Regions from separate parts of the Homo sapiens genome. Here regions 1, 2, 4, 5 and 6 are each linked to region 3. The links come from fine-mapping of genetic effects on gene expression. A gene starts in region 3. Each other region holds a variant in brackets. All regions are shown on one strand. Distances are from middle to middle.

Region 1 (5,072 bases), 25 kb after region 3:
GCTGAGGCATGAGAATCACTTGAACCCAGGAGGCAGGGGTTGCAGTGAGCCAAGATCGCGCCACTGCCCTCCAGCCTGGGTGACAGCGAGACCCTGTCTCAAAAAAAAAAAAAAAAAAAAAAAGATAAGCAAAATGTGGCACACACATGCAAGGGAACATCCCTCAGTCATACAAAGGAAGGAAATGCTGACATATGGTACAACACGGATGAGTCTCGAGAACATTCTGCTAGGTGAAATAAGCCAGTCACAAAATGACAAATACTGTACAATTCCAATGATCTGAGGTCCCTAGAGTAGTCACGTGCCTAGAGACAGAAAGCAGAATGGTGGCCCTCAGGGGCAGGGGAGGGGGAATGGGAAGTTCCAGTTTAATGGGGACAGAATTTCAGTTTGGGAGAATAAAAAGGTTCTGGAGATGGATGGTGGTGATGGTAGTGCATATATTATGAATGTACTTAATACCGCTGAACTGTACACTCAATACCACTGAACTGTACACTCAATACCACTGAACTACACACTCAATACCACTGAACTGTACACTCAATGCCACTGAATTACACACTCGATACCACTGAATTATACACTCAATACCACTGAGCTGTACCCTCAATACCAACTAGCTGTATCCTTAATACCACCGAACTGTACACTCAATACCAATGAACTGTACACTCAATACCACTGAGCCATACACTCAGTACCACTGAACTGTACACTCAATACCACTGAACTATACACTCAATACCACTGAACTACCCACTGGATACCACTGAACTGTACACTCAATACCACTGAATTTACGCACTCAATACCACTGAACTAGACACTCAATACCACTGAACTGTACACTCAATACCACTGAACTACACACTCGATACCACTGAACTATACACCTAATACCACTGAACTGTACACTCAATGCCACTGAATGACACACTCAATACCACTGAACTGTGCCCTCAATACCACTGAACTGTACACTCAATACCACCGAACTATACACTCGTACCACTGAACTACACACTCAGTACCACTGAACCATACCCTCAATGCTACTGCACTTTACCCTCAATACCACTGCACTTTACCCTCAATACCACTGAACTGTACACTCAATACCACTGAACCATACCCTCAATACCACTGCACTTTACCCTCAATACCACTGCACTTTACCCTCAATACCACTGAACTGTACACTCAATACCACTGAACTGTACACTCAATACCATTGAACTGTACACTCAATACCACCGAACTACACACTCATACCACTGAACTACACACTCAGTACCACTGAACCATACCCTCAATACCACTGCACTTTACCCTCAATACCACTGAACTGTATACTCAATACCACTGAACTGTATACTCAATACCACTGAACCATACCCTCAATACCACTGCACTTTACCCTCAATACCACTGAACTGTATACTCAATACCACTGAACTGTACACTTAATACCACTGAACTATACACTTAATACTATTGAATTTTATACTTAATACCACTAAACTGTACACTTAAAAGTGGTTAAGATGGCACATTTTATATGTACCTTTACCACAATAGAAAAAACTGGGAAAAAAGAAAAAGAAAAAGAAACTTCTGCATCATGGAGTCAACAGCAGCTCCACATTTGGGTGTATGTGTTTAAGCCAAATATTTAAGCTGGCTCAATAAACATGGCACATGGTGGCTCGTGCCTGAAATCTCTGTAATCTCAGCACTTTGGGAGCCCGTGGTGGGTGGATCGCTTGAGCCCAGGAACTTAAGACCAGCCTGGGCAACATGGAGAAACCCTGTCTCTACAAAAAATAAAATAAAAAAATTAGCTGGGCATGGTGATGTGCACCTGCAGTCCAGGCTACTTGGGAGGCTGAGGCAGGAGGATGGCTTGAGCCTGGAAGGTCGAGGCTGCAGTGAGCTGTGATTGTGCCACTGTACTTCAGCTGGGTGACAGAACAAAACTTTGTCTCAAAAAATATATATGAAAATAAAAATTTTAGGCTGGGTGTGGTGGCCTTACAGGTTTACAGGTGGGATTACATGCCTGTAATCCCAACACTTTGGGAGGCCGAGGCGGGCAGATCACCTGAGGTCAGGAGTTCGAGACCAGCCTGGCCAACATGGTGAAACCCCATCTCTACACAAAAATTAGCCAGGCATGGTGGTGGGCACTTGTAATCCCAGCTACTCAGGAGGCTGAAGCAAGAGAATCACTTGAATCCAGGAGGCAGAGGTTGCAGCGAGCCGAGATCGCACTATTGCACTCCAGCCTGGGTGACAGAGCGAGACTCCGTCTCAAAAATAAATAAATAATAAAAATAGAAATTTTAAAAATGTGGTAGATACGGTTGCTGGCTGGCCCACCTGTCACCCATGACCCCTATATTTCCTGAATTTTCTTCCAGCTGGGGTGGCCTGTGGCGGTCCATAACCCGAGTCCAGGAGGGTGGGGCTTCGGGAAAATTCTGCTTGGAAAGGGACGCGATCCTGGTGTGTTCTTGTCATGGAAGAGGCTGAGTATCAGGTTCTGCTTCTGTTTTCAGCAGGGGTGGTGCTGGGGGCATCTCAGGCTGGATTGGGGGCAGAAGGTGGCAGTCTGAGAGGCTGAGGTGGGAGGCTGTACTGCAGCAGGTGGTCCTGACCACAGAACGAGATCCCGAGCCAGCCCTGTCTGGGGACCACCAAAATTCTTCTCCTTTAATGGGGACCTCACAGTGGTTCTCCTTATAGCTTCTAGCTATTTCTACAACATAAGG[A/C]TCAACGACCGAATCAATTTGCTTTGATGTAACTTCATTCCTCTGGGCCAGGACTGTGGGGAGGGGGCACATCCCCCAAGTGTTACCAAGATAACTAGGTTTACATGTCGTGAAGCCTCCGAGCATGCAGAGACGGGACCCCAGGTACAGGGCTCCGGGGGATGCATGACCCCCCTCCGCAAGACCTCCACCTGTGGGAAACTCTAGGCAGATCATCCCACTGGGGACAACTGAAATGACAACATGGTCCTTTGCATGCTGATTGGAAACCAGCTTCCTCATAACTTTCACCTGCTGGGCCTGCTCCGCCCTCCGGAGATTGACAACGAAGTGAGTCCCTCTGTCTAGGACAATCCCTGGAGCATCTGAGGACACCTGCCATAGCTCACCCCATCTACAACCGGGCCCTTTGTTCTTGAGAGCAAACCTTGCTTCTTTCCCTCCTTCCACACAAGGTTTCTGACTTAAGCCATGAATATAATTTTGGCCGACACTGTGCAGCACGTGCTGCACGTGGGCTGTGACACTGGACCCTCGCCAAACCTTACAGGCCAGCCTCGGGTTGGTGCTGTATCAGTGAAGACGCTCAGGTCGAGGCTGGCAAGCTGGGCTTTGGAGAGCAGGGAGTCCGGTGCTCCAGTGCCCAACTCCAGAGCCTTAATTAGCCATCATTCGGCACAGTTTCTCTCTGGAACATCAGCACCCTGCCACTCTCTTTTAATGGTGCTGATTCCTTCCTAAATGACAGAGGCACCCAGAACCTGAGCAACACTGCACACCGGCTGGCCAGCAGAGAGTGCAGTGTGACGGCTTCCCTCCTTGCTGTAGGACAGGGGTTGGAAAACTGCTGCGCCAGCCTGTCACCTGTGTTTGTGCAGCCCTCGAGCTAAGAACAGTTTTTACAGTTTTATTTATTTCATTTAATTTTTTTTAGGAGAAGGGAACTTACTCTGTTGCCCAGGCTGGAGTACAGTGGCATGATCACAGCTCACTGCAGCCTTGAACTCCTGGGCTCAAGTGATCCGTCTGCCTCAGCCTCCCAAGTAGCTGGAACTACATGTGTGTGCCACCACCCCCGGCTAATTTTATAATTTTTTATAGAGACAGAATCTTGTTATGTTGCCCAGGCTGGTCTCAGACTCTTGGCCTTACACTGTCCTCTTGCCTCAGCCTCCCATAGTGCTGGGCTTACAGGTGTGAACCACTGTGCCCAGTCCAATTTTTACAGTTTTAAACGAAAGAAAACCAAAAGAAGAATAACATTTCATAACACACAAAATTTATATAAAGTTCCCAATCTCAGCATCCATAAATAAAGTTTTATTGCCAGGTAGCCAAGCTATCTTGTTATCTTAGTGAGCTTGGGAATGCCATAATGAAATACCACAACCTGGGTGGCTGAAACAGCAGACGTTTCTGTCTCACGGTGCTGGAGGCTGGTAAATCCAACATCAGGGTCCTGGCTGATTTGGTTCCAGGTGAGGGCTCTCTCTTGCAGACAGAATTCCTTCCTGCTGGGTCCACACAGGGTAGGGAGGGAGCTCTGGCCTTTTCCTCTTCTTACCAAGGCACTAGTCCTGTCGTGAGGCCTCTATCCCAAAATAAAAAAAATTAGCTGGGCGTCGTGGTGCATACCTGTGGTCCCAGCTACTTGGGATGCTGAGGTTGGAGGATCGCTTGAGCGATCCCAGGAGGCCCAGGCTGCAGTGAGCCATGATCACTCCACTGCACTCCAGCCTGGGCAACAGAGCAAGACCTGAGCTTATCTAAACCTTATCACCCCCAGAGCCCCACCTCTTAATACCATCACATTGAGGATTAGGGCTATCAATCTTGGGGGACAGAAACATTCAGTACACAGCACCTATTTACATATTGCCCGGGGCTGCTTTCACGCTACTATGGCAGACCTGAGTAGTTGCAATAGAGACTGAATTTCCTGCAAGCTGAAAACATCGACTATCTGGTCCTCTATGAAAACATTTGCCTGGCTGGGCGCAGTGGCTCATGCTTGTAATCCCAGCACTTTGGGATTGGGAGGCTGTGGTGGGAGGATTGCTTGAGCTGAGTTCAAAACCAGCCTGGGCAACACAGTGAGACACCTTTTCTACAAAATTACAAAAAAAATTAGTTGGGTGTGGTTTACAGCTATGGGATTACAGGTGTGTGCCTGTAGTACCAACTACTTGCAAGGCTCAGGTGGGAAGACTGCTTGAGCCTGGCAGGTCAAGGCTGCAGTCGCCTATGATCACACTATTGCATTCCCGCCTAGGCAACTGAGTGAGATCTTGTCTA
Region 2 (5,072 bases), 72 kb before region 3:
TAGGGCTGGGCATGGTGGCTCACACCTGTAATCCCAGCACTTTGGGAGGCTGAGGCAGGTGAATTACCTGAGGTCAGGAGTTCAAGGCCAGCCTGGCCAACATGGCGAAACCCAGTCTCTATTAAAAATACAAAAATTAGTTGGGTGTGGTGGCATGCACCTGTAGTCCCAGCTACTCAGGAGACTGAGGCAGGAGAATTGCTTGAACCTGGGAGGCAGAGGTTGCAGTGAGTGGAGATCGTGTCACTGCACTCCAGCCTGGGCAACAGAGAGGGACTCAATCTCAGAAAAAAAAAAAATATATATATATATAATACACACATATATACATATACACGTATATATATACGTATATATGTACGTACATACGTACGTATATACGCACATATGTACGTATGTACGCACGTATGTACGTACATATGTACCTATATATGTACGTATATATACACACACGTATATATATATGCGCATTAGGTCAGTAGATAATGCATGCTAATTATATTGTTCAAGTTTTTAATATCTTTACTAGTATTTGGTTTGCTTTGATCAGTCAGTTTCTGAGAGACTTGTGTTAAAATCTCTCATTATGATTATGGATTAATCTCTTTCTTATAATGCCAGATTTTGCTTCATATCATTTGAGACTGGGTTGTCAGGTGCATATTTGTTCAGGTTTTTAATATTTTTCTTGTGAAGTGTGCTTCTAATTATTGTGTAATAACCCTCTTATCCCTCTTTAAAGTTTTTGCTTAAAAGTTTATTTTTGGGCCAGGTGCGGTGGCTCATGCCAGTAATCCCAGCACTTTGGGAGGCCGAGGTGGGCAGATCACAAGGTCAGGAGTTCAAGACTATCCTGTCGAACATGGTGAAACCCGTCTCTACTAAAAATACAAAAAAGTTAGCCGGGCATGGTGGCGAGCGCCAGTAGTCCCAGCTACTTGGGAGGCTGAGGTCGCACCACTGCACTCCAGCCTGGGTGACAGAGCGAGATTCCGTCTCAAAAAAGAAAAAAAAAGTTTATTTTTGCTGATTTGGGTTGCTCTTTCTTTTGTTTAGTATATATTTGTTACGCCTTTTTCTATTCCTTTTTTTTTTTTTAAGATAACAGCTTTATGGTGATATAGTTAACATATCATACAGTTGAGCCATTTAAAGTATACCATTCAGGTCGGGCATGGTAGCTCACACCTGTAATCCCAGAACTCTGGGAGGCTGAGGTGGGTGGATCACCTGAGGTCAGGAGTTTGAGACCAGCCTGGCCGACATGGTGAAACCCTGTCTCTACTAAAAATACAAAAATCAGCTGGGCGTGGTGGTGGGCACCTGTAATCCCAGCTACTCAGGAGGCTGAGGCAGGAGAATCACTTGAACCTAGGAGGCAGAGGTCGCAGTGAGCCGAGATGGCACCACTGCACTCCAGCCTGGGCAACAAGATCGAAATTCTGTCTCAAAAAAAAAAAAGTAATGAAGTATACCATTTGTTATTTTTAGTACATCCAGAGTTGTGCAACCATCACCATTATCTAATTCCAGAACATTTAATCACTTCAAAAATAAATTCTTCTTACCCATTGGTAATCACTCCCCATTTCTTCCTCTTCCTCCCAGCCCCTGGCAATCACTTCTGTCCTATGGACTGGCCTATTCTGAACATTTCATACCAATGGAATAATGCAGTACTTTGGCCCTTTGTGTGTCTTCTTTCACTTAGCATAGTGTTTTTAAAGTTCATCTATGTTGTGGAATATATTAGTACTTCATTCCTTTTTTTTTTTTTTTTTTTTTGAGACAGGGTCTTGCTCTATCACCCAGGCTGGAGTGCAGTGGCATGATCTTGGCTTAACTACAGCCTTGACCCCCTGGGTGCAAGCGATCTTTCCACCTCAGCCTCCCAAGTAGCTGGGACTACAGGTGCACATGCTAACACGCCCGGCTAATTTTTGTATTCTTTGTAGAGACGGGGTTTTGCCATGTTGCCCAGGCTGGTCTTGAACCCCTGGACTCAAGCAATCCTCCCACCTTGACCTCCCAAAGTGCTGGGATTACAGGCAGTACTTCATTTCTTTTTATGCCCAAATAATATTCCATTGTATGGATCTACTATGTTTTGTTTTGTTTATCCATTCATAGTGATACACATTTGAGTTGTTTCCACTTTTTGGCTACTGTACACATTTGTGTACACATTTTTTTGTGTGAGTCTAGGTTTTCAGTTCTTTTGGGTATATATCTAGGAGTAGAACTGCTGGATCATATGGTAATTCTCTGTACCATTTTGAGAAACTGCTGAATTGTTTTCCATGTGTATTGCATCAGTTCACATTCTTACCAGCATGTGTGAGGGTTCCAGTTTCTTCACATACTTGCCAATACCTGTTATTATCTGTCTTTTTGATTATAGTCACCCTAGTGGGTGAGAAGTGGTATCTCATTGTCATTTTGATTTGAGTTTACTTTGTGCATAAAGATGTTGAATATTTTTTCATGTGATTATGGCTTATTTGTGTATAATTTGTTGAAGAAATGTCCTTTCAGATCCTTTGTCTACTTTAAAATTGGATTTTTTTAAATTATTGAATTGTAAGAGTTCTTTTTAA[A/G]TTAATTAATCAATACTTTTAGAGACAGGGCCTTACTATGTTGTCCAGGAGGGCTTTGAAGTCCTGGGCCCAAGTAATTCTCTAGTATTAGACTTTTGAGTAGCTAGGATCACAGGCGTGTACCACTGTGCCTGGCTTGTATGAGTTCTTTATATAGATGCATGTTCCTCATCAGATATATGATTTACAAATATTTTCTTTCATTTCTTCACTTTTAATCTCTTTGTAATGTTTTAGGTCTATCTTTTGTAGACGGTGTATAGGGGATTCATCATTTAAAATCTAATTATAGGGTCCCTATCTTTTAGCTGGCAAGTTTAATCTCTTTACATTTGTTGTAATAACTAGATATGTGGATGGAATTCTGTTATCTTATTTTGTACTTTATATATTACCCTTCTCTTTTCTCCTTTTTTCTCTTTTCCTGCCATCTCTTGGATTGATCAAATTTTCTTTATATCTCCTCTTTTCCCCCTCAACTCATTTGGAAGGTTTATAGTCAATTTCATTCTGTACTCTTAACATTTTTAACATGTATACCCCTGAGTAATATGAGGACTTTAGATAGCTTTAGCTCTAACTCACTTCCCTTTCATCTGCCACGATGCTGTTGCCCAGTATTTTAGTTTCAGTTTGTTTTTACTTTCCCAAATTTGTTGTTATGCTTATTTCTAAATTTTTAATCCTTTTTTAGATCTTCTCACATTCTTACCAGTTTGTGTTTGCCTATTTGTTCATCATTGCTTCATTCAAAGTCCTTCCTAAAGTACACCTTTAATGGTGCTTTCAGCAATTTTTTTGGGAATGGTAAATTCTCTCATTGTTATTTTTCTTTTACTCTTGAATAGTTAGTACAATTGAAGATGGGATAGGGATCTTCCCTCAGCACTTTGCAGATATTCTTCCTTTTTTTATTTGGCATTCATTATGCTGAGAAGGCTGCTGAGAAGCTGAGAAGGCTGCTGTTGGTGTAATTGCTGCTCCTGTCTAGGAAGTTTGTCATTTCTATCTTTTCTCACATTGAAAGACTGCTTTGAAGACATTCTCTTTGTCTTTGGTGATATGTAGCTTCACTACAATGGAGGGTATTTTTTGTTTTGTTTTTAGAGTGAAGTTTTTGTTTATCTTGTGTGTGACTCACTGTGATTCTTAAAGCTGAATATTTATGTCCTGCATCAATTGTGGGAAAATTCTCAGTCATTCTCTCTTTGAATATTTTCTTTGCCCTCATTATGTTTATTTTGTCCTTCTGGAATTCCTATTACTCATTGATTGGTTCATTCATCCAACAAACATATATATACACACATGCATATATATATATATTTTGAGCCTGCTGAGTGTCAGATGCTGTCCCAGGCACTGAGGACACAAGCAATGAACCAAAACAGCTGAAAGCTTCATTCCGTGGAGTTTGTATTCCACTGGGGAACACAGGCAATCCACAATAAACAGAAATACGTGTTGTTCAACCACAGACTCCAAATGCTCTAAAGAAGAAAGCAGAGTACAAGGTTAGCAAAAGATGGGGGCTGATAAGTTTTCATATCTTTTGCTTCTTTTTTGTTATCTATTTCTCTGCCAGGCTTTTTGAGTAATCTTCAGATCCAGCTTCCATGTATATTTTCTTTGCACAGCTGTTTTTTAAAACCTTCCCAGTTGTATTATTTTGCATGGCTGTGTCACAAATTACTGCAAACTTAGTGGCTTAAAACAGCACTCACCATGAGCTCACAGTTGTGTGGGTCTGATGCCTGGCGTGGTGTAGCTGGGTGTTCTGCTCAGGATATCACAAGGTTCAGGACATCAAAGTATCGAGTGGGTTGAGTTCTCATCTGGAGGCCCTGGGGAAAAGTCCACATCCATGCTCACTCCTTGTTGTTGGCAGAATTCAGTTCCTTGAGGCTGGAGGACTGAGGTCCCATTTCCTTGCTGGCTGTCAGCTGGGTCCGTTTTCAGCACCTGGAAGCCACCACATTCCTGCCATGTAGCCTCGTGTGTCTTCAAGCCAGCAGTGGTGAACAGAAACCCTCCCGTGCTTCGCATCCTTGACTTCCTTTTCTGTGACCAGCCAGAGAAAAGGGCTCGTGTGGTCAGGTTAGGCCTACTCAGGTCATCTCCCTGTTTTAAGGTCACCCGTGCCGCAAAACGGAACCTGCTCTGGGGAGTCGAGTTTGTCCTCTTCACCTTCCAGGGGATCTTGCAGGGCGTGGACACCAAGGGCCGGAAGTCTTGGAGCCCATGTTGGAATTCTGCAATTAAATTCTGCAATTAAAATGTTAATGATTGTGTGTTTCCTTTCTTTTTTTTTTTTTTGAGACAGAGTCTCTCTCCCACCTCAGCCTCCCAAGTAGCTGGGACTACAGGCACCCGCCACCACGCCCGGCTAACGAAGTCTGGCTAATTTTTTGTATTTTTAGTAGAGACAGGGTTTCACTGTGTTAGCCAGGATGGTCTCGATCTCCTGATCTCGTG
Region 3 (5,072 bases):
GGATAAGACACCAATTATGATAAATGCTGTGGAAAGAAAAATCCACCACCAGGGGCCAGCAGGCAGGGCGGGAAGGAACTTGTGACCACAGGTTTGAGTGAGAGGAGTGAGCCACACAGACACCAAATCTCCCTAGAAAATGCTTAAGGGAAGAGAACACAGATGTGAATAATCGCCCCCTTCACAACAAGATGGTGGAAGGCTGAGTTTGGGGATGTGAGTGGGAGAGGGGAGAGAGGGCAGGACAGAATGGGTTTTGTGGCCAGGATTTAGAGGGCGTCCCTCCCTGTGGGGGCCCGCTTGCAATCTTTCCTTAGAGCTCATGTTGCAGCCCTGGGAGCAGACCTGCAGGTGGGAGCCCTGCGGCACGGAGGGAGCCCAGAGCCTCTTGCTACGAGCTTGTCCCCATGGTGCCAGGGCAGGGCTTGGGCCAGGGAACTTGCGGGCACAGAAATGGCAGCCTTTGGCATGGGGTGGTGGGGTGAGGAGCAGGGCTGGTGCCATGAGGAGCCCATGGCCGCTGGACTCCCCTGAAGGTTGGGTCCAGGAGGGCAAGGACTCTTCTGCCTGCTGCCACTGCCCCCTGACCAGTGCCCACGGGAGTGTCCCGTGCACAGAGGAGGGGCTCAGATATTTGTAGAACAGTAACCAAGGCCCAGGCTCCAAAAGGCCAACCAGGGCTATACCTGGGCATTTCCTGGCAGTGCCAGGCAGCTGTTGGTGGGGGCGGGGCTGGCTTCCTACCTCAGACCCAGCAGCTCTTTGCAGGTCACCCTCTCTTGTGTGGGGGGGACTCCCATGCCAGGACTCTGTACAGCGGGGGCTCCCTGTGGTCCTGAAGGCTCATGACTCTGGGAGGGCTGCCCCAGGGGAAGAAGGATAGGTACAGGCAGAAGGCAAAGAGGCTCTGCCCGTTACCAGCGGTGCCTGGGGACAGAGGACACCTCTGGACTCCCTCACACTGGGGCTCTATTCTGGGCTTTTGCCGAGACTCTAGCAGCGTCAGGTCCTTGGACGAAGGGCCCCCCGGTAAGACACTGCAGGGAGGAGAGAGTGGCCCCACTGCCGGGCTCCTGCCTCAGGGTCCCCACTTCTCCTGTGCTCAAGAGCACAGTGACCCCTGACTTCCAATTCAAAATATCCCAAATCCCGGCCGCTTTCCAGAGTGAGGGTCTCTGAGCCCTGACACTCCCTCACCACCCTGGTACCAAGAAAAACGAGCCCCTCCTCAATAGCCATTGCTAATTACGTGGAACCCACAAGTTCTTTCCTGGGCTGGGCCTGCCTGGTGCAAATCTATTCCTGTAGATCAGGGGCCCAGGGGAATTCACGTGAATTAACACCGTGACATGGAAAAATGCAAGGAAGATGTTAACCTCATTAAGTCAGTAGGAATCACTACCTCACCCCAGACTCCTCTACCTGGAATTTCTGAATTGTTCTGTTTACTGAAAGCCAACAAAGCATACAACCTGAGATTGAGAAGGAACCCTGAGCATCTCTTCTGAATGGTGACACCTGTCCAGAGAGCAGAGAGCCCAGCCAGAGTTCTCCAAAGCGGAAATGGAAGGGGAGCTGCTACCATTCCGGGGTGCGGCTCTACAAGACACGGCATTGCTTCAGTGCAAACACAGAATGATTTTCGCTCAAGGACAATCAGCAAACTGAGGCCCAAACAAGCAGCCCCTGGCTCCCTCAGCACGTGCTTCCTGCACAGACATTTCAGACAAGACCAAACCTCCCTGACAGCGCTCTGGGCAAAACTGGAAAATGCTGAATCTTAATCAATGGTGAACACAGCGAGGTACGAGCTAGACGCCCGTGTCTCCGGCAGATGGGAAAACAGTCAGCCTTGGGCAGGTCTGGGCTGTGAGCAGACTCAAGCGAGAGGTGCTGCCCGGCTGAAACCTGCCGCCCACCACCCCATCCATCACGGTCATTCCAAGTTTACCTCAGGCTGGCTCTTTTTTAAGGTCTTCTGCTTTGCAAAAACACGGAGGGTCTAATTCCGGATCAGACAAAACCACCCCAAAATATGGTCTCCTCTGTTATTTTTCATTCCCGCGGATGCGTGCCCCCAAGCGGCATCTCCACTAGGAAGGTAGCGGCTGAAGGGAGGACTCACCTGCCTTCGTGGGGGCGTCTGCTCGTTAAAAAGGCCACAGTCTGGTTTATTAGGGATCACCAGACACTCTAAGGATCTGGCACAGCGGCTTTTTCATTAGGGAGTGTCACTGCAGGACGTCAGAAGCAATTGGTGAATGAGATGAGTCCCACCAGAGTCGAGTTTTGAGGCAGCGAGTCCATTAGTTCTATTAGGGCGTTTTCATCTCAGTGAAAGAGGCTGAATTATTCACGAGTGCCTCTTCCCCTAAAAGCTCGGGAAGTGCAGTTCCGTGCTGCAACCTGGCAAGGCTGACTCCCGGTGCGTGGGGTTGGGGTGCAGCCCAAGGTGAGGGGGAGGTCCTGCCCGTCCCTCAGGCCTACCCTTGCTGCCTCCACCATCCCCGCGTGCCAGAAACACAAACCTTTGGACCCACAGGTCGAAAGGGGCAGGCCTTGCTCTTTGGTATCTGAGTGCGGGACACAGAGCCTGTGGCTTCCGCATACCACTCAACTCTGAACTGTGTCTGCAGCAGGGGAGCTGGGGGCCCCGTCGTATGGGGCCACCACCCACAGCCAAGGGGGTCTGGAGAGGCCTCTGCTCAGCACACGCGCATGCTCCTCCTGTCCTCTGGGGATACACCCGAGATGGGTATATCTGATACTACCGGTAGCTATAAATGGCAGGAAGGCCCCAGAACCTGCTATTTGGACTCCACACTGCCACTCACTCCAGGCAGGGACACAGGAGCCCTTCTCCACGGCACATGTCCTGACCTGGGGTTTGGGAAATGCTTTGAGACTAGGCCAAACAAGGCTGAGCTCTGGGATGAGGCTAAGTGCTGAGCCCCAACCCCAGGGTCATGACCCCCAGGGTCACTGCGTGTCACAGGATGCCAGCAAAGTCCCAGCGTGACATCATCTTCCGGCTGAGAAAGCGCGCCAGTGAATGTGGGATTTTGAATGGAGGCAGAACCGTCCCCCCATGATGAATGAGCAAACAGTGGTAGCTGCCATGGGGGAAGGTGGGGGACAGGAAATCAGTGCCCCAGTCGCAGTGTGGAAGGTAAATGAAGTGGGAGGCTGGGAGAGCACGTAGAGTCTGGAGGTGCCTGGCTGCGGGTGACTAGCTGCGAAGGCCTTGGCAATTGAAATGGTTTGTCCCCAAAGGCCCAAGCCCACTCTGTCAGATCCCCACATGTCGCCCTGGTCGGGGGGCCTGCGCCTCACTACTGGGTGGTAGCTGCAGCCTAACATGCTCCGAATGAGGCCCTCTCCTTCCCTGGGTCCACTGCTCCTCTCTGTCCCTTTCTGTCTCAGCACCTGCCCATCAGTGGCCAAGCCCTGTGGACGTGGCTTCTGACGTCCTTTTTTCAGGCCCTGCACCCCTTCATTCTCTCTCTGTGCAGTTCCTGGAGCTCAGCCGTCCTGCACCTTTCCTGGGCACTGTCTGGTCTCCTTGCATTAGCCTCTCTCTTCCCTGTCTTACTCCCTGCTACCAGGCTTCCTTCCTAGAGCAGATCTCTGACCCCTGCCCTGCTCAAACACCATAGATGGCTCCCCAGTGCCCTCTGAGTGCATCTGTGCCCCATCGCTAGGCATTCGAGGCCCCCCACCAACATCCACCTCTACAGCCAGCCTCTCTTTATTCTCCATCATGTCCCTGATGGCCCAGGCTGGGTAACTGTCACTTCCTGTTCTCTGTGCACACCTCTGAGCTGTGGCTCAGGCTGTTGTATCTACTGGAATATGCTTCCCAGCCTCTGCGTTGAATCCTGCCCAGCCTTCAAGGACCAGATCCAAGCCCCTGCTGCCTTCTCCGTGAAGTCTTCTTGGCTCTCAGCTGGCTGTGGCCCCTCCTTCCTTGGACCCCAAATGCTCTTTGGGCTTCTCCTGTGACGTGCTCTGCCTTCTGGAGATCATCAGGGCTATTTGAGACCTGGGGTACATGGAAGTATTGCTCCCAATCCTTCACCCCTCTCTGTACCCATGCCCTTTGCCATGTGACTTTATAGCTCCTCCCACTGGTGGGGGCAATATATTTCCAGCCCCTTGACTGTGGGCTGGTTCCTGAGACTTACTTTGGCCAAAAGCACGTGAGCAGAGGTGACAGCGCTCTGACCCCAACCATAGGCCGTAAGAGACCCTGCATGTTTCTGCTTTTCCTCTGGTACTTTTGCCATGGGAAGGACATGCCTGGGGTAGGCCCCAGTTAAGCATGGGAAGATGGAGGACATGGGGATCCAACTTGCAGCTTGGAGACAAACCCAGCCAAGCCAGCTTAGACGAGCTGCCTGGTCAACCCGCAGACACGGGAGCAAGGAAGAGATGCTGATTGCTGCGTGGCACTGAGTTTTGGAGTTGTTTGTTATGCAGCACTTGGTGGACAGCTGATTGGCACAGTGTCCTATGCCAATTCCTTGCCTGGGAGCTGCATGGGGGCAGGGCACATGCCTTGAACGCCTCTGCCCTGTGAGAGGGCCAGGCCTAAGTAACTGAAAGAACCATCCAATAGCCATGTTTAGTGGTATGCTTGGTGTGATGAGGGTGCCCTACTAGGAGTGGCCCCCAGCCTGTTAACAAACAAAGACCCTAGCCCTTAGAGGTCATCTCCAGAGCCCCCACAAGAGACACCCAAGTGACCCCCTGGAGATCCAACGGGTAGGATGGCCAGAGCCTGTGGGCACCAGAATTGGGGCTGAGAGCCTAGAGGGTAAGCTTCAGAGCTTCCCTTGGGGCCAGGAAGGCCACCTGGAAATGAAGGTTCTTAAGCACAGGGATCCCGGCGGGGGGGACAACATGTTGAGCCTGTGGGGTTTTGAGGGCCTTGAGTGGGCTGGAAGGCTCTCACTTGGTCACTGGATAATTTACTTGGCCCCTCCTAGGGGCAGGCCCTTGGAGCTGGATGGTCTGTACCTGTGGGCAGCCCTTTTGAGCTGGCAGGTCTGCACCTGGGATTTTCCTGCCTG
Region 4 (5,072 bases), 48 kb after region 3:
CCATGGAAAGGCAATACCCTCTAGGGGGTGCGGGGGGCTGGCTGAGCAGAGGCGGGAGGCGCTGCAGGATCTATCTAGACAGACAGGGCACAGGTAGGGCGTGCAGAGGGCCCAGATGGGGCACAGACAGAGTGCAGGCAGGGTGTGGACGGGGCACAGACAAGGTGCAGACGGGGCACGGACGGCGCAGACAGGGTGCAGAGAGGGTGCAGACAGCAGAGCAGGATATGGATGGGGTGCAGGCAGGGTGCGGACGGGGCACAGACAGGGCGCAGGCGGGATGCGGACGGGGCACAGACAGGGCACAGACGACACAGACAGGGTGCGGAGAGGGCGCAGATGGCGCAGGCAGGGTACGGATGGGGCGCACATGGGGTACAGACAGGGCGCAGGCAGGGTGCAGACACGGTGCAGATGGGGTACAATCAGGGCACAGGCAGGTGACAGACTCTGTATGGTCAGGAACAGGGTGGCGAGGACTGGCTCCTGTACTGACCCCTGGCCTCCTCTGCCGTGGGCAAGCACTCGGGCCATCAGTACCCCTGAACCAAACCACATTCCAAGAGGCCTGGACACTAACAAGGCGCCCTGCCACACACGGGAGGATGAAAGCACATCTCAGATTTGAAGCTCACAAAAGTGCAGCAGGTCATTCCAGTAGAATGTGGGCTTCACATGTTCCCAAGAATTACAGAAACCCCCGCAAAGCCCTTCTCGCCGGAGCTTTCAACCATCACAAACAGCTTCCTCGTGTGCTTCCTTAAGAAGTAGAGGTGGGCAGGTTCACTGACAGACTGAAACGGCTAGGGCTAGGGAGTGTTTCTCAAAGCATGTTCTTGGAACCCCTGATCTGAGTCACCAGGGACTGGTGGCCAAGGAGCTTGCTAAGCTGCACCAGGACCCCTGAGGGCTGGGCAGGTGCCACACCCTACAAGCCTGCTGGGCACACCGATATCTCAGGACCCTCGGCCCACCCAGGCCCCAAGACTCCACAATTCTTACACAGAACGTAAAGCACTACGCAGCCAACCTATGCAGGGCAACCAACAAGGCTAAGCCCCAGCCCGCAGTTCACGGGTGTCCCCAGAAATGCCCCCCATTAAGGCAGGAAATGGAAGAATGCGCCGTTGAAATCGTCTCTAAAGGGGCGGACGAAAGAGGGTGCTGCTGGCAGTTGCGGTTAAGCAGCAAAGCGGCTTCGTCTACGCCCGCCAGCCCCGGAGCCACCCTGTGCCCTCACCTTCCTTTTCCTCCTTTCACGGTCAAATCTCTCCAGAGCCATTGGCGGCAAAGTCCAAAGGTCACCAGGGTGGGACTCTGGCTTGGGGTCCTGGCTCCTGCGCCTAGTAGCTTGGAGGCCTTAGGGAAGCCACTTTGACTTTCAGTGTTTCTGCCTCAGTCAGATGGGTATAAGTTGGTTGGCGAGTGCTTGGAAGCTGGTGGTGCTGAATCTGGGGTCCTGCGCCCCCTCGCTGCTCCTGGGAGCCCAGCTCTGCTTCCCCTCTCAACAGAGGCTGCCTCCTTGGCAGCAGCTGGCCCACCGGATGCAGCAGATACCTGCCTCATCCTCTATTTTCCTCTCCTCCCCGGGCTCTGGAAGAATCCAGGGTTCCCTACTGTCTGTCTTGACCTTCATCTTCCCTCTCAAACCCGTACCCTTGGCGACCCTTGGCACTACCCCCAGGTGACACTGTCAGGGCTGTGACCAGTAGGTAGGTGGCAGTCACCTCCAGGTCCCACCTCTCCTGTGAACCCCAGCCCTACCTTCTCAATGTCAGTGGGCACTGCTGTCCAAGACACAGACCTCGAAACCCAAGGTCAACCGAGCCCAGTCCTCCCCATCCAGAGGCCCCGATTCTGGCTCTGCCTCTTTCAGTCTGTGCAGCCCAGGTGGACCCAGCCAGAAAAGCTTGGGGGGCTCCAGGGCTCTCCTCTTCCCTCCCTCCCCATCACTGTCCAGCCCATGGTGGCCTTGGCCCTGATGCCCTCCCCTAGTTATCCTATTCACCCATATTCATGCCCTAGCCTGTGACCGCACTGGGCCTCTGGCCATCATCCAGCCTGCCTGGTCCTCCCTCTGTGACCTTGCCCATGCAGAGCCCTTTTCCAGACCATCCTTTCCTAGCTCTGCCTATCACAACCTGCCTGTCTTTCAAGGTCCAGGTCAAATGTCCCCACTGCCCCCGTCTCTCCTTCCCTATCAGCAGGGTTTTCTCTGACCATTCCAGGCATGTGGTCACTGCATCCCTTTCCTGGGTCTCAGCCCTAGAGGAGGGAGGTGGGTCTTGCTCATTCTTGGTCCTTCAAATGTCTGCTGCTAAGACCTTCGCCCTTCACTGGCATGTATAGGTTTTAAGCAATGTTTTAAATTTAAATTTGTTTTATAATGAATAGATCGAGCTGAATCTCCTTGCCCATGCATTCTAGTTATTCCTTACCCTCCTGCATCTGGGAGGGGTGGCAAGAATATCACTTTCAGAGAGCCCCTGCCACGGCTGAGTGTTTGGGATCACAGGGCTCCGAGGCAGAATTCTAGAGTCTTCTGTCCTAGGCTGCATTGAGAGCCTGTGGATACCAGGGCCT[G/A]AGATTGCAATGAAAGATCATGAAGCTGCCCGGGGGTGGAAAATGAAAACACATTCATGGTGAAGGAGGGGGAGCATGCTCAGAGCATGGCTCTGCAACCCACTCGGTGCCCAGGGGCTGCTGGAATCAGACAGACAGGTGGGCAGGTGTGCAGTGGGGGTCTGGCAGGCTTGCAGGCCCTCCACGAGGCCCAAGGTCAGGGAGAATAGGGCAAGGAGTGTCCCTCCCTCAGAGGGAGGCTATTCCCTGCAGACCAGGGCAACGGGCTCTCCCCTCCTGCCCTCTCTTCCCCTTCCTTCCCTCCATCCTTCTCCACTGTGAAATCACTCAGCAGGGCTCTCCAGCTGAGAGACTGCCAAGAGGTCCCAGGAAACCACGCAGAAGGAAAGCCAGGTTCCTCTGCTCCGGTTTTCCTGGGGGCTCCGTTGGGCTGCCCAGGAACCACCTGAGCTCCAGGCAGGATGGTGGCTGGGGCGCCTCGTCCGACTGGAAGAGGGGGAACTGACAGTTATCCAGCACCCACTGTGTGCCAGGGAAGCCCCAGGCTCCTACCATTGAGGCACCAGTTCACCCATTCAGATAGAGGGAGACACGAATGATCCGTGTGGCTTAGCAGGCCAGAGAGCCAGAGACTCAGAGAGCTAAGTCTCTGGCAGGGAAACAGCCCAGGCTGGTGACTCAGGACCCCTGCGGACCAGACCTCAGGGGTCTACAGGACCCAGGAAGTTGCTCCAGAAAACTGGCCCACGTGGAATGGGTTGAATCTGGTGCGGGGTCTGAGAAGAAACCTGTGCCCAGCTCCCAGCCATGGAGTTGGATGATAGATCTCGGCTGCTCGGCAGTCAGGGCTCAAGATCACAGCCAGGAAAGCCTTCTCACTGGGTCCAGGTAAAGGCGGACGGCCAGGAAGGTGGTCCCCACCATTTCTCCACTTTTCCCCTTTTCCCAATCCTGTTTTGTCTACAACCAGCATGGCGTCAAAGCAGTTAGCTCTGTGGGTACCTGTGTGCTGGAGAAGTGGAGGAGGCTGCCTGCAAGGAGACAGGTGCCGGGGAAGCCGGCAGGGTGGGCATGGGGTTGCTCTGTCACTGAAGACACGCAGAACCTGGGTCTCTGGGGCTAACCATGTGGTCACTGCGCAGAGCAGGGAGTAGCCTCCTGAGACGCTGGCCAGCAGGGGTCTGAGTGGAAACCTGGGTGTGGCAGTGGCAGGGCACCCTCAGGCAGGGAGGGGCCTGAGCCCAGGGCTCATCCCATGGTGGGTGTGCAGGAAGAGGGAGGCTGGCCTTCATCTGAGTTCCCCAGGATGTGGCAGAGGACAAGAGGGCCCAGCATCTGCTCAGGCCCATGAGACAGGGAGTCTCACGCATCTGCCAAGCCCAGGCAGGCAGGAAAGCCTCGAGCCAGTGGGCAGTGACAGGACGAAGCCCAGGTGTGCCACCCCATCTCCCCCAGTGTGCTCTCTCCTGGGGAAGAGGGTCCTGTTCCCTTTGCCTCCTCGGGACTGGCTGAGCGGAGATGGTGTATCCCTTAATAGACTCACCCGAAGATAGACCAGGAGGGGCCTGAACATGGCGGGTCACCCGTCACCAAGGAAAGAGCAGTGTGGGGCTTCCCACGCCACGACAAAGGAGTGCTTCCATATCCCCCAGGGTCTGGGCCTGGGCCTCCAGGGCCTCTTGGGAGACTCACTCCTGCAGAGGTGAGGATTTCAGGCATTCGATGGAGCTCAGGTGATGGCGGAGGGGGCACCTCTCACAGAGTTCTGGCAGGGCAGGAACAGAATCAAGGTTTCCTCACTAGCTGGGAGGCCAGGATCAGTTTCACTGCTGCTCTGTGCCTCAGTTTCCCTATCCAGCCTCCCTCACAGGGTTGTTTACAAGTGCCGGAGGCGAACTGAGGTCATGAGTGTAGTTCCAGTGTGGGGAGGGTCCCTCCTTTCCTTCATCCCACCACGGACCTGGTGCCCTCACTCTTCTCTAACTATGGGGCCATCTCTTTGAAGGCCACGAACAACAGTACCCTTGCACCAGGGCCTGCATGCCAGGCAGGACTGAGTCGCTGAGAAATCTCCATGGTAGTGGCACCTCCCAGTCCCAAAAGCCCCTCCAGTGACCTGGACACACCCAAGGGCACTGGCTGCGCCCATGAATGTCAGCAATGCCTCCAAGTGGCCTTCTGAAGGGACAGCCGGTCATGTCCTCGGGGTGCTGGCTTCCCCCAGCTCGGACAGCCAAGGCATGAACTGGGCTCAAATAAGTAGGAAGTAGGGGGTCCAACCCAGCTCCGTCACTGCCTCTGTTGACCCTGGAGAAGCCTGTCCTTCCGTTTAGTCCTCTGAGAGCAAGGATGACCGGCTGCTGGGTGCCAAGACCCAAGTCCTCCTGGTGGTGGGAGGGGGACTGGCGGGAACATGGGGTCTATGGCCCTAGACACCTCTGGCATCAATCCTTCTCGAATTGCCGCCCCGAGCTGCCCACTGTCCTGCC
Region 5 (5,072 bases), 170 kb after region 3:
TAGACAGAAGGTTCCCAGCGCCCGGCCGCAGCGGCTTCTTGGAGTAGCTGCAGGCTGGCTGACTCCCCGGCATGGGGGTGGCCCCTTCCAGGCCTGAGATCTTGCAAGGCAGCCTCTAGTGGGCCTTACTTTTTCTTGTAAGTCCCACAGGAAAAACAGGCCAGTCTCCAACCTGTAGAACCCATGTGTGCTGGCCAAGCCCCTTGAGTCCCTGCGGCATCAGAGCAAGGGGGTGGCTGAGCCTTGCTGAGGCAGCGTGCTGCTTGCCTGGACTCTGACCCGGTGTGACCGAGACTCAGCAGGCCGGGGGCATGTCCTCTCCTGTGGACGCTGGGCCCAGGCAGGGCTCCCAAAGTTGTGTTGGGGACCTGGCTGGTGAGGCCTGTCACCATAGTTTTGAGGCCATTCTTTTCTCTTGTTTGAAACTTCTGATTCTCCACCGTGCGGGGGGCCAGACTCGTGTCTGTGAAGAGTCTCTCAGGAATAGGCAGGGATGCTGTGTGGACCTCCGTGTCAGGGACACAGCCAGCAGATCTCTGTCCAGCACTGCCTGAGATCCATGCCTGGGCGGGGCCGGCCAGTTCCACCCAGACCACATGGTCAAGGAAGGGGGTGGTGGTGGCGATGCTTGTGGAGAAATGTCCTCTTCTGAGATCGCGGGTGGTGGGCAGCCAGCAATAGCCCCTTGTGGAGGAGAGTGTGCCTGGGACCCTGTCCACCCATGTCCTCTTGTCTGCAGGCGCAGCAGAGCGTCCGCACACAGCACTTGCGGGACCTACAGGTCATCGCCGCCTACCGGGAACGCACGAAGGCCGAGAGCATCGCCAGCCTGCTGAGCCTGGCCATCACCACGGAGCACACGCTCCACGCCACGCTGGGGGTCGCCGAGTTCTTTGAGTTTGTGCTTAAGAACCCCCACAACACACAGCACACGGTGACTGTGGAGATCGACAACCCCGAGCTCAGGTGAGGTCTCAGTGGTGCCCGTCCTGCCCCAGCCCAGATCTGTGTCGGGTGCAGCCGGCACCCCTGCTGAGCTGGCTCGAATTCTGCCCGAGAGCCGGGGCGATTTGACTTCTCTCTCCCACTCCTCTGAGCACCGCTCTCGGTGGGTGGGACCGCAGCCTCCTGTGGGTCCTCCTGGGAAGAACTGCCCTGACGCCTGGACACTGCCTCCCCCAGCGTCATCGTGGACAGTCAGGAGTGGAGGGACTTCAAGGGTGCTGCTGGCCTGCACACACCGGTGGAGGAGGACATGTTCCACCTGCGTGGCAGCCTGGCCCCCCAGCTCTACCTGCGCCCCCACGAGACCGCCCACGTCCCCTTCAAGTTCCAGAGCTTCTCTGCAGGGCAGCTGGCCATGGTGCAGGTGCGGGTGTCAGGCACACAGGGAAGTTGCATTTGGCTGATGACGGTGGGAAATTGAGAATGCTTCCAGTCTCCACCAGTGTCCCTCCCTTACCTGTGCAGACAGACTAGCCTTGGGGCTGCCGCCCACTCCCCTTGGTGCTCAACAAGAGCCCTGGCATGTACACTGCAAGTGGCAACCAGCCCCTTCTCTTTTCCAGCCTGATGGGTGTCGAGCTGGACCATCTCCTCCTAATTTTCTTTACTAAGTTGGTTGGAAGGGCTTCTTAAAGCCCAGTGAATCTAATGGATTGACGTTTTCTAGCATCTTCTTTCCAGTTAATGTTGTTTGGTCCCTTCCGACTGCAGCACTGTCTGCTCTATGCAAGATGCAGCTTTGCAGGCATGTGTGCGGGGAGCATGCGTGCAGGGAGCATGTGTGCAGGGAGCGTGCGTGCAGCAGGTATATGTGCAAGAGGTATGTGTGCAGGATGTATGTGAGGTGTGTGTGCAGGGGCGATATGTGAGGTGTGTGTGCAGGAGGCATGTATGCAGGGTGTGTGTGAGGCACGCGTGCAGGAGTTGTGCGTGTAGGGGTCTGTGAGATGTGCAGGGAGTGTGTGAGGTGTGTGCAGACATGCAGTTGTGTGTGTGCAGGGAGTATGTGAGGTGTGTGTGCAGGTGTGCACTTGTGTGCAGGGGGTGGTGTGTGAGGTGTGCCTGCAGGGGGTGTGTCATGCCCGGGTGCGTGAGGCCGGCATGGGGTGTGGAGTGTGTGTTTCAGCTTTTGACCTTTTGGGGTCAGCTCTCTAGGGTGGTGGTCATCGCTTAAGGTGGACTTGAGATGTCCCTAGAGGCTCACTCACAGGATGCCATGCTGGCTCTTGGGATGGGCTGTGAGGACTGCAGGTGGGACCTCAGGCCTTTGGCTTCAGGCAGAGCCGGGTTTCCACCTGGGATCTGCTGTTCCCTTTGTTCCTGGCAGCCTCAGCCTTCTCTGGCACAGTGAGGCCGGTTGGTGATGGTTGCTGCCTGGAGAGTCAGTGTGAGAGGAGGCTGGTGGCTCCCAGCTGGGTGGCAGTGGTGTCTCTAAGCACAGGTGCTGGTCGCCTAATGGTGTTGCTTCCTGACCTGCTTGTGCTGTTCGGTTCCTGCAGGCCTCTCCTGGGTTGAGCAACGAGAAGGGCATGGACGCCGTGTCACCTTGGAAGTCCAGCGCAGTGCCCACTAAACACGCCAAGGTAAAGGGGCAACGGAGGACAAACTGATCTCGGGGCTTCCTGGGTATTCCCAGGGCCTGACCCTTGTGTCCTTCTCTCCCCTCCTGGAGGGGAGGGCTGGGGCCAGGTCAGGGCAGGGGTGGCGTGGGCCTGGGAATGGCCTTTTCCGTGTCCTCGCTGGGCAGGGCAGCTCCGTCTGGGCGCTGGCACAGCCTGCATGGTATCTGGTCGGAAATGCCTCCTTGGTGGCCGCCTTCTCACAGCCCAGGGCTCTCCGGGTGTGAAGCCGCAGTTCCCGTGGTGGCTGCCACAGCCTGCGGCCACTCCTTGAGCCTCACGCAGAGCATTCCCTGGTGTGTGAGTGTGTGGTGTGGTTCTTCCTGGAAATAAGACGTAGTCCTTGGTTACGTCCCTTGCTAAGCGAAGGCCGTATAGTAAGGCACCTGCTTCTCAACAGCTGGCTGAGACATTCTCAGGAGGAGCTTGAGACACTGCTGCTTTATGGCAGTTTCTGAAGGTTGTTTTTTATTCGGTAGAAACATGCCTT[T/A]TGTAGTAGTTGGGAAGTGAAAAACAAAATTAAAAAGCTTTGGTCTTTCTTACACATTGCCTGGAGGACAGAATTCAGAGTTCAGCGCAGTCCTGTGAGGCTGTGGCGTTCCCGTGGCCCGGGTCTCACTGTGGTTGCAGCCTGGCCCTCTGTGTCCACCGGGCCCCATCACCAGTGAAAACTTGCTTTATTTTATTTAAGTGTGCAGCCACAGCTTTGCCTTGATCTAAGGAATGTATCTGATCTTTATTGAGTGCTCTAGGTTAACGCTTTTTCCTTACATGAGTGGGAAGTCCCAGCCATCGCGTCCTGTTGCCAAAACCGTTGGGAGGAAGGTTTTCCTCTGCTAGCTCAGGTCTGAATGGTAAGGGCTGCAGGTGGATGACCGTAGACAGAGGGACAGCAGCAAAGACGGGCCTTACCGTTGTGAGCCCGTGGCAGCATTGGGAAGTGAGTAGCTTGCCAAATGCCCAGAGGTCGAGGTTTCTGTGCCAATGTAGCACAAAGGGGGCGAGGGCCAGGGCCTCCGTGGGAAGACGGGGACATTCTGTTGTCTCTTTATGCTGTGAGCATGGCCAGTCTGTGACCTTCCTGGAATTTGCAGGATGCTTTCACTTACACTTTCACATAGGGGTTTAATGGCAGCTGCACTTTCAGGTGGCTGTGCACTAGTCAGATAAGGAAAGTTCAGGTAAGATTTCTTTTCACCTTAAAATAATCTTTACGTCAGAAATATGATCTCTTCACATGAATTTGGAGTTTGAAGGGAAATCCTAGACACTGTGTTAGTTTACCCATAATTACTGCAGTGTGTATCTCTGACTGATAAGGACTTTTCTTTTTATCATGACTGCATGCTGTTGTTGCTGCCCCCAGTCAACGCAGACCTCGGCATCGTCTGCTGGGGCTGTAACCACGGGCCTTTCTACCACTGGTGCGTTTGGATCAGGACCCGCTGTCCTGGGGTGCTCCGCCTCTGGAGTTGCTCAGTGGGCAGACCACGTTGTCCATGAAGGCCACCCACAGAGGCCATGCTGGCTGTCACCGTGCTCAGGTGCTGATGGCCTGATGCCATCACCCGTGTCTCCCTCACTCGCATCCAGCTGAGGCTCCTGGCCCACTGCGTGTTCCATCCAGGGTGGAAAATGGTGAAATTGCAGTCCTGTCATTCTTCCTGTGATCTTTCTACAAACAAGGACTTTCCCGATCAGCAGTTTGGTTACCCTAAAATATACTTTGTACTTGAAAGTGAGGATGAATGTTAGAATCATTCCCTTTATCAATTTTCAAATAAATGAGCTGCGTCCTAGCAGCCTCCAGAGACAGTCCATGTTTGCGGCGTCTCATGATGGACACCGAGGCGTTATATTTGTATTTCTCATCCCATGGAGGCACCGCTCTTAGACGCTGGAACTGCCCTCTCTCAGGCCACCGCCATCCTTTTCAAGTTAACTCCTGTGCCTTTTTTAAATAACAAGTAGTTATTTTGAAATAATTTAGAACTTAGGGAAGAGTTACAGGAAGAGTGCAGAGTCCCCACATAGGGTTTTCCCAGACTTCCCGGTCACTAACCTTTGCCATGTTTGCCTCGCCACTCTCTGTTTGTGCATTTTTCTTGAACAATTTGAGAATAAATTATCAGGTAATGCCCTTTACTCCATGACACTTCGAGCTGGGTTATCTTGAAAATAAGGCCACTGTCCTCTGTGGTCAAAGGAGAGCCATGAAAATTAGGGAACTGACGCTCCTCTTCTGTCATCACAGGCCCCATTCACATTCACAAATGTCCCAGCACTTGATAGATGGCCCGTCCAGTGGCCCCCACCAGCCTGCTGCCCATGGAGTCCTTCTGGCGTGGCTGCAGCTGTTGTGAAGTGCACAGGCGGTTATCCTGCAGGGCGTGCCCAGTGGGGCTGGTCTGGTGTTCGTTTCAGTTAGACCCAGGTTATGCACTTGGG
Region 6 (5,072 bases), 39 kb after region 3:
AGTTGATCAAGAGAAGCCAGGGAGAGAACAGAATCAGGCTGGACAGTGTGTTCCAGGCCAGTCCTGGCAAGAGGCTTTGATGGGGTCTAGACAGGGGACGTGCATCTGAAGGTGTGTGTGCAGGTGTGTGCATACACATATGCACACGTGTGCACACATACACGCACACGGACACCACCGGGCCCCCTCCACCCGTTAGCCAGCCTGCTTATGGTCTGCTGCCTGCTCATGTACCCAGCGATCTGCTGGGGAGAGGCCACACTCTGCACAGGTGGATGCCCCCATGGGCATACCAGGCGGGCCTCCTGCCGCTCTGGAAAGCAGATACTCCAAGGGATAGGTGCAGAGCAAGGCCCAGCACCCCTACAGAGGGCGGGGTGGCCAGGGGGACTTGGAGAGCTGCATAGTGGTGCTGGGTGACCCTAGCTCATGTCCCGAGATGAGAATGTCCAGTCAGGGACCACTTCAAACAGAGGCTCAGAGCGTGGCCTGCAGCTCCTGGGGGAGAAGGGTTGGACTGTGGGGTGCAGTGCACCCAGGGGCACTTTTGCTTTGCTCTTTCTGGCCTGGACGTGTCCAATTTCCCTGCTTTACAGCTTTCACTGAGGCTGCTCCCAGAGGAATGGGCAGGGCTGCTCTGGGGTCTCACTCTCCGCCCAGGCCAGAGGCTTCAGACATCTCCTCACTCAGGCCCAAGGCCTGAGGTTCCCACGGAAACAAGTCCCCCAGGTGACCTCTCCCCATGTGGCGCAGGAGGTCACAGCATGAGACCCCAGGGGCCTGGGACAGAGCTCTGGGGTGGTGGTTCGGGGGCCTCACTCCCTCAGCCACTTCCCTGATCACAGCCTTGTTTTCATCATCTGCTGCAGTTCTGTTGATACCAGGAGCATTTCTCAGCCCATGTTGGTGTCCTGAGTGATCCTTTTTTTTTTTTTTTGAGACAGTCTCGCTCCGTCTCCAGGCTGGAGTGCAGCGGTGCAATCTTGGTTCATTGCAACTTCCACCACGCCACCCGGGTTCAAGCAATTCTCTTGCTTCAGCCTCCCGAGTAGCTGGGATTACAGGTGCACGCCATCATGCCTGGGTAATTTTTGTATTTTTAGTAGAGACGGGGTTTCACCGTGTTGGCCAGGCTGGTCTCGAACTCCTGACCTCAGGTGATCCGCCCACCTTGGCCTACCAAAGTGCTGGGATTACAGGCGTGAACCACCGTGCCTGGCTCTGAGTGATTCTTAAAGAGGATGAACAGAGGAACGAGGGAAGCCTGTCCTGGATGCTGGCTGCTCTTGGGCATGCAAGCCACTGTCAGGGTGATGGGGGGGCGGGTCCTTTCTGCCATGGGGGACCCAGCGCAGCGGAACCGGACTTGGCTCACCATCTGCCTCGTGAAATCCAAGCCCTGCCCTTCGCAACATGGAGAAAACAATCTGTGGGTCTTAATGGCCCAGCTCCAGGTTCGCCTCCCCATTGGTGCAGGTGAGGGGATGCCTGATGAAGTAGTGCTCCTGGCCCTCACTCATCAGCTCCCTCAGAGGGAGCCATGTCAAACCAGACAGCTCCAGGCAGCATCTGCAGGCCACTTTGAACTGAGGGGAGCCAGACCCCACCACTGCCCCTGCCTCAGCGTCTCCAGCCCCTCTCAGGGCTGCGGCTGCAGCTGCCTCTACCTGGCTGCAGTGCCAGGGAGAGAAGGAGCCTCTGCATCTGTTGGGCTCATCAGTGAGGGCCAAGGGAAGCGGCGGGCACAGGGACGGGAGGGGAGGTTCCAGGTTCTCTTGGCCATCCCCTCCTTCGGGGGTAAGGGCAACAGTGACGCGCACACACTGCGGCGCCCAGCTTCTCCCACTCCTTTCCAAGCATCCACAGTAAAAGGAGATAAAGGAAATGCTGAGTCTCCTCTCAGAGCCAGATTGAAATTTTAAGTGAGCCAAGGTAGGAAAATCACACAGGGGGATGGGGCCACAGCAAGAACCACTTCCGGATGATGACTGCGTTTCAGAGCCTGACTCAGCACGGCGCGGGGCGCAGAGGAGGCGCGGAGGAGGCGCAGAGGTGGCGCGGCTCCCCACGGATGGAGCCGCTCTGCCTCCGGCTCTGGCTCCAAGCTGCTGCCTCGGCTTCCTGGGCAGAGGGGGTGGGTTTTAACTTCTTAAATCCCAGGATGGGAGAAGGAAGAAGAGGCCAGTGTCCTGGTGTATACCAGATGAGCAATTTCAGAGAGATCATTGCTTTACATGGGGTGGCCACGCTGGCATTTAAGTGGTCTCTTGGCCACTTGGCCCTGTCCCTGGGTGTGGCTGGGGTCCCCACCTCTCTGGAGCCTGGCACAAACTCACACCCAGGAGCTGAGCCCCCCCCATGCAGTGACTGGGCAGGGAGGCC[C/G]GGGCAGTAACTATCTGGGGAGTGGTGGCGCTCCCAGCTCGCCTGGCTGATATGAGTCTCTATGGCAGCCTCGGAGAGGTCGGACTGTCCGCCACAGGGACAGAAAGCGCTGACTCTCGGCCAGCCCTGAGCAGAGACACTCTGGACACTGAGTCCAGCCAGGGCCCGCTGCTGGGCTTAAGCACAGTGCCCAGCACAGAATAAGGCGAACTGTTTACCGTCCTTCCCCAGAACCCAGTGCTCATCTTACACAGGCTGCTGTCTGATCCCTCGACAACAGCTCTTATCATTGTATTTTAGGTGGGTTTCAATCACGGCCCTTGGAAGAAGTTGAGGGGAAAGATTGGTTCCACTTGCACAGGGGAACTCAGAGCCCAGAGGAGGGATGTGGTCAGGTAGCGCTTCTGACAGAGCACTGAGGGGTGAGGGTGGAGTAGGGGAATGTGGGAGCTGAGCTGAGGAGTGAGGGTGAAGTGGGGGATGTGGGAGCTGAGCTGAGGGGTGGAGGGTGAAGTGGGGGATGTGGGACCTGAGCTGAGGGGTGAGGGTGGAGTGGGGGGATGTGGGAGCTGAGCTGAGGGGTGAGGGTGAAGTGGGGGGATGTGGGAGCTGAGCTGAGGGGTAGGGGAGGAGTGGGTGATGTGGGAGCTGAGCTGAGGGGTGGGAGTGGAGTGGGGCTGAGGGGTGAGGGTGCAGTGGGGGGACGTGGGAGCTGAGCTGAGGGGTGAGGGTGGAGTGGGAAATGTAGGAGCTGAATTGAGGGGTGAGGGTGGAGTGGGGGGATGTGGGAGCTGAGCTGAGGGGTGGGGGTGGAGTGGGGGGACGTGGGAGCTGAGCTGAGGGGTGAGGGTGGAGTGGGAAATGTAGGAGCTGAGCTGAGGGGTGAGGGTGGAGTGGGGGGATGTGGGAGCTGAGCTGAGGGGTGAGGGTGGAGTGGGAAATGTAGGAGCTGAGCTGAGGGGTGAGGGTGGAGTGGGAAATGTAGGAGCTGAGCTGAGGGGTGAGGGTGGAGTGGGGGGATGTGGGAGCTGAGCTGAGGGGTGAGGGTGGAGTGGGGGGACGTGGGAGCTGAGCTGAGGGGTGAGGGTGGAGTGGGAAATGTAGGAGCTGAGCTGAGGGGTGAGGGTGGAGTGGGGGGATGTGGGAGCTGAGCTGAGGGGTGAGGGTGGAGTGGGAAATGTAGGAGCTGAGCTGAGGGGTGAGGGTGGAGTGGGAAATGTAGGAGCTGAGCTGAGGGGTGAGGGTGGAGTGGGGGGATGTGGGAGCTGAGCTGAGGGGTGAGGGTGGAATGGATCAGAACATCAGAACAGAGCCCCAGGGTGCCAGCCCTGGGACCTCCCTCCAGTCACAGCACCCGTGGTCCCTGCCAGGGGAAACTCCGGCCGGCATCCTGGGCAGGGAGACCCCCATCTGCCCCAATGGGAGGCTGTGCCCTGTCTCCCCACGTGGGGGCCCTGCATCCTCACAGTGACCGCTGGGAAAAGACAGACCTGGGCTTCCGTGCCTCCCCGGGCCACTAAACCCATCTCTCTGAGCCAGGAGGGTGTGCTGCCTTCCAACTACAAATACACCAGCAGGAGGGGAGAGAGGGGACCCAGGTTGGATCCCACTCCTACTCATGGGGGGTAGGGGGGACCCTCAGTCGGCTCCAGGTCCACAGGCTGGCTTCCTACCAGGTGTGCTCCAAGGCCCTCAGCTGGGCTGCCACGTCCCCGCCTCCACCCTCACCCCTCAGCTCAGCTCACACAACCCACAACTCCACCCCCACCCCTCAGCTCAGCTCCCACATCCCCCAGTTCACCCTCACTCCTCAGCTCAGCTCCCACATCCCCCCACTCTACCCTCACCCCTCAGCTCAGCTTCCATGTCCCCCACTCTACCCTCACCCCTCAGCTCAGATCCCACATCCCCCAACTCCACCCCCACCCCTCAGCTCAGCTCACACGTCCCCCTACTCCACCCTCACCCCTCAGCTCAGCTCCCACATCCCCCCACTCTACCCTCACCCCTCAGCTCAGCTCCCACGTCCCCCCACTGCACCCTCACCCCTCAGCTCAGCTCCCACATCCCCCCACTCTACCCTCACCCCTCAGCTCAGCTTCCATGTCCCCCACTCTACCCTCACCCCTCAGCTCAGCCCCCGCGTCCCCCTACTCCACCCTCACCCCTTAGCTCAGCTCCCAGATCTCTGCCTGCACCCTCATCCCTCAGCTCAGCTCCCACATCCCCCCACTCCACCCTCACCCCTCAGCCAGCAACACTTGTATGCAATCCCTACAGAGGGAAGGAACTGTCTGATGAGGAAGAAGCAGCCAGACTCTGGAGGGAGACGGGGCTGGAGGTGGGACTCGGGGGTAGAAACCTATTGTGTGGGGTGGACTGTGTTCCCTGAAAGATCCACCCAAGTCATAATCCCAGTTACCTGTCGATGTGGAATTATTTGGCAAAAGGGTTTTTGCAGATGTAATTAAGGTGGAAATCCTGCGATGAGGCCATCCTGGATTAGGATGGGCCCTAAATCCAATGACAAGTGTCCATATAAAAAGAGGAGACAGACACAGAAAAGGCCATGTGGCGATGGGGGCAGAATCTCGGGGGGGTGTTTCTACAAGCCAAGGAACACTACGGGCAGCCACCAGGAACCAGGAGCGAGGCCTGGAACACATGCTACCTCGGTCTCCAGAGGGAAC

Evidence for each region. PIP is the estimated chance that this variant, and not a neighbour inherited with it, causes the effect.
Region 1: its variant is fine-mapped to the expression of KCNAB2 in whole blood (TOPMed, PIP above 0.99).
Region 2: its variant is fine-mapped to the expression of KCNAB2 in whole blood (INTERVAL, PIP above 0.99).
Region 4: its variant is fine-mapped to the expression of KCNAB2 in whole blood (TOPMed, PIP above 0.99).
Region 5: its variant is fine-mapped to the expression of KCNAB2 in whole blood (TOPMed, PIP above 0.99).
Region 6: its variant is fine-mapped to the expression of KCNAB2 in whole blood (TOPMed, PIP above 0.99).

Annotation. Positions count from the first base shown.
Region 1 is chr1:6,017,931-6,023,002 of GRCh38, reverse strand. It overlaps a transcript of KCNAB2 not described here. Among named protein-coding and RNA genes, the nearest start is that of KCNAB2, 25 kb to the left of the region's middle. The variant A/C (reference allele first, on the strand shown) is at 2,778.
Region 2 is chr1:6,115,092-6,120,163 of GRCh38, reverse strand. All of the region lies in intron 33 of CHD5 (chromodomain helicase DNA binding protein 5), which reads left to right. Among named protein-coding and RNA genes, the nearest start is that of CHD5, 63 kb to the left of the region's middle. The variant A/G (reference allele first, on the strand shown) is at 2,598.
Region 3 is chr1:6,043,237-6,048,308 of GRCh38, reverse strand. KCNAB2 (potassium voltage-gated channel subfamily A regulatory beta subunit 2) reads right to left here and starts at 2,421. Exons shown (of 16, transcript NM_001199862.2): 1 at 2,126-2,421.
Region 4 is chr1:5,995,139-6,000,210 of GRCh38, reverse strand. It overlaps a transcript of KCNAB2 not described here. Among named protein-coding and RNA genes, the nearest start is that of NPHP4, 5.2 kb to the right of the region's middle. RefSeq lists enhancers at 1-225, 226-940. The variant G/A (reference allele first, on the strand shown) is at 2,584.
Region 5 is chr1:5,870,768-5,875,839 of GRCh38, reverse strand. It overlaps NPHP4 (nephrocystin 4), which reads left to right. Exons shown (of 30, transcript NM_015102.5): 21 at 740-966; 22 at 1,183-1,369; 23 at 2,505-2,588. Among named protein-coding and RNA genes, the nearest start is that of MIR4689, 11 kb to the right of the region's middle. The variant T/A (reference allele first, on the strand shown) is at 3,115.
Region 6 is chr1:6,004,488-6,009,559 of GRCh38, reverse strand. It overlaps a transcript of KCNAB2 not described here. Among named protein-coding and RNA genes, the nearest start is that of NPHP4, 15 kb to the right of the region's middle. RefSeq lists an enhancer at 358-950. The variant C/G (reference allele first, on the strand shown) is at 2,383.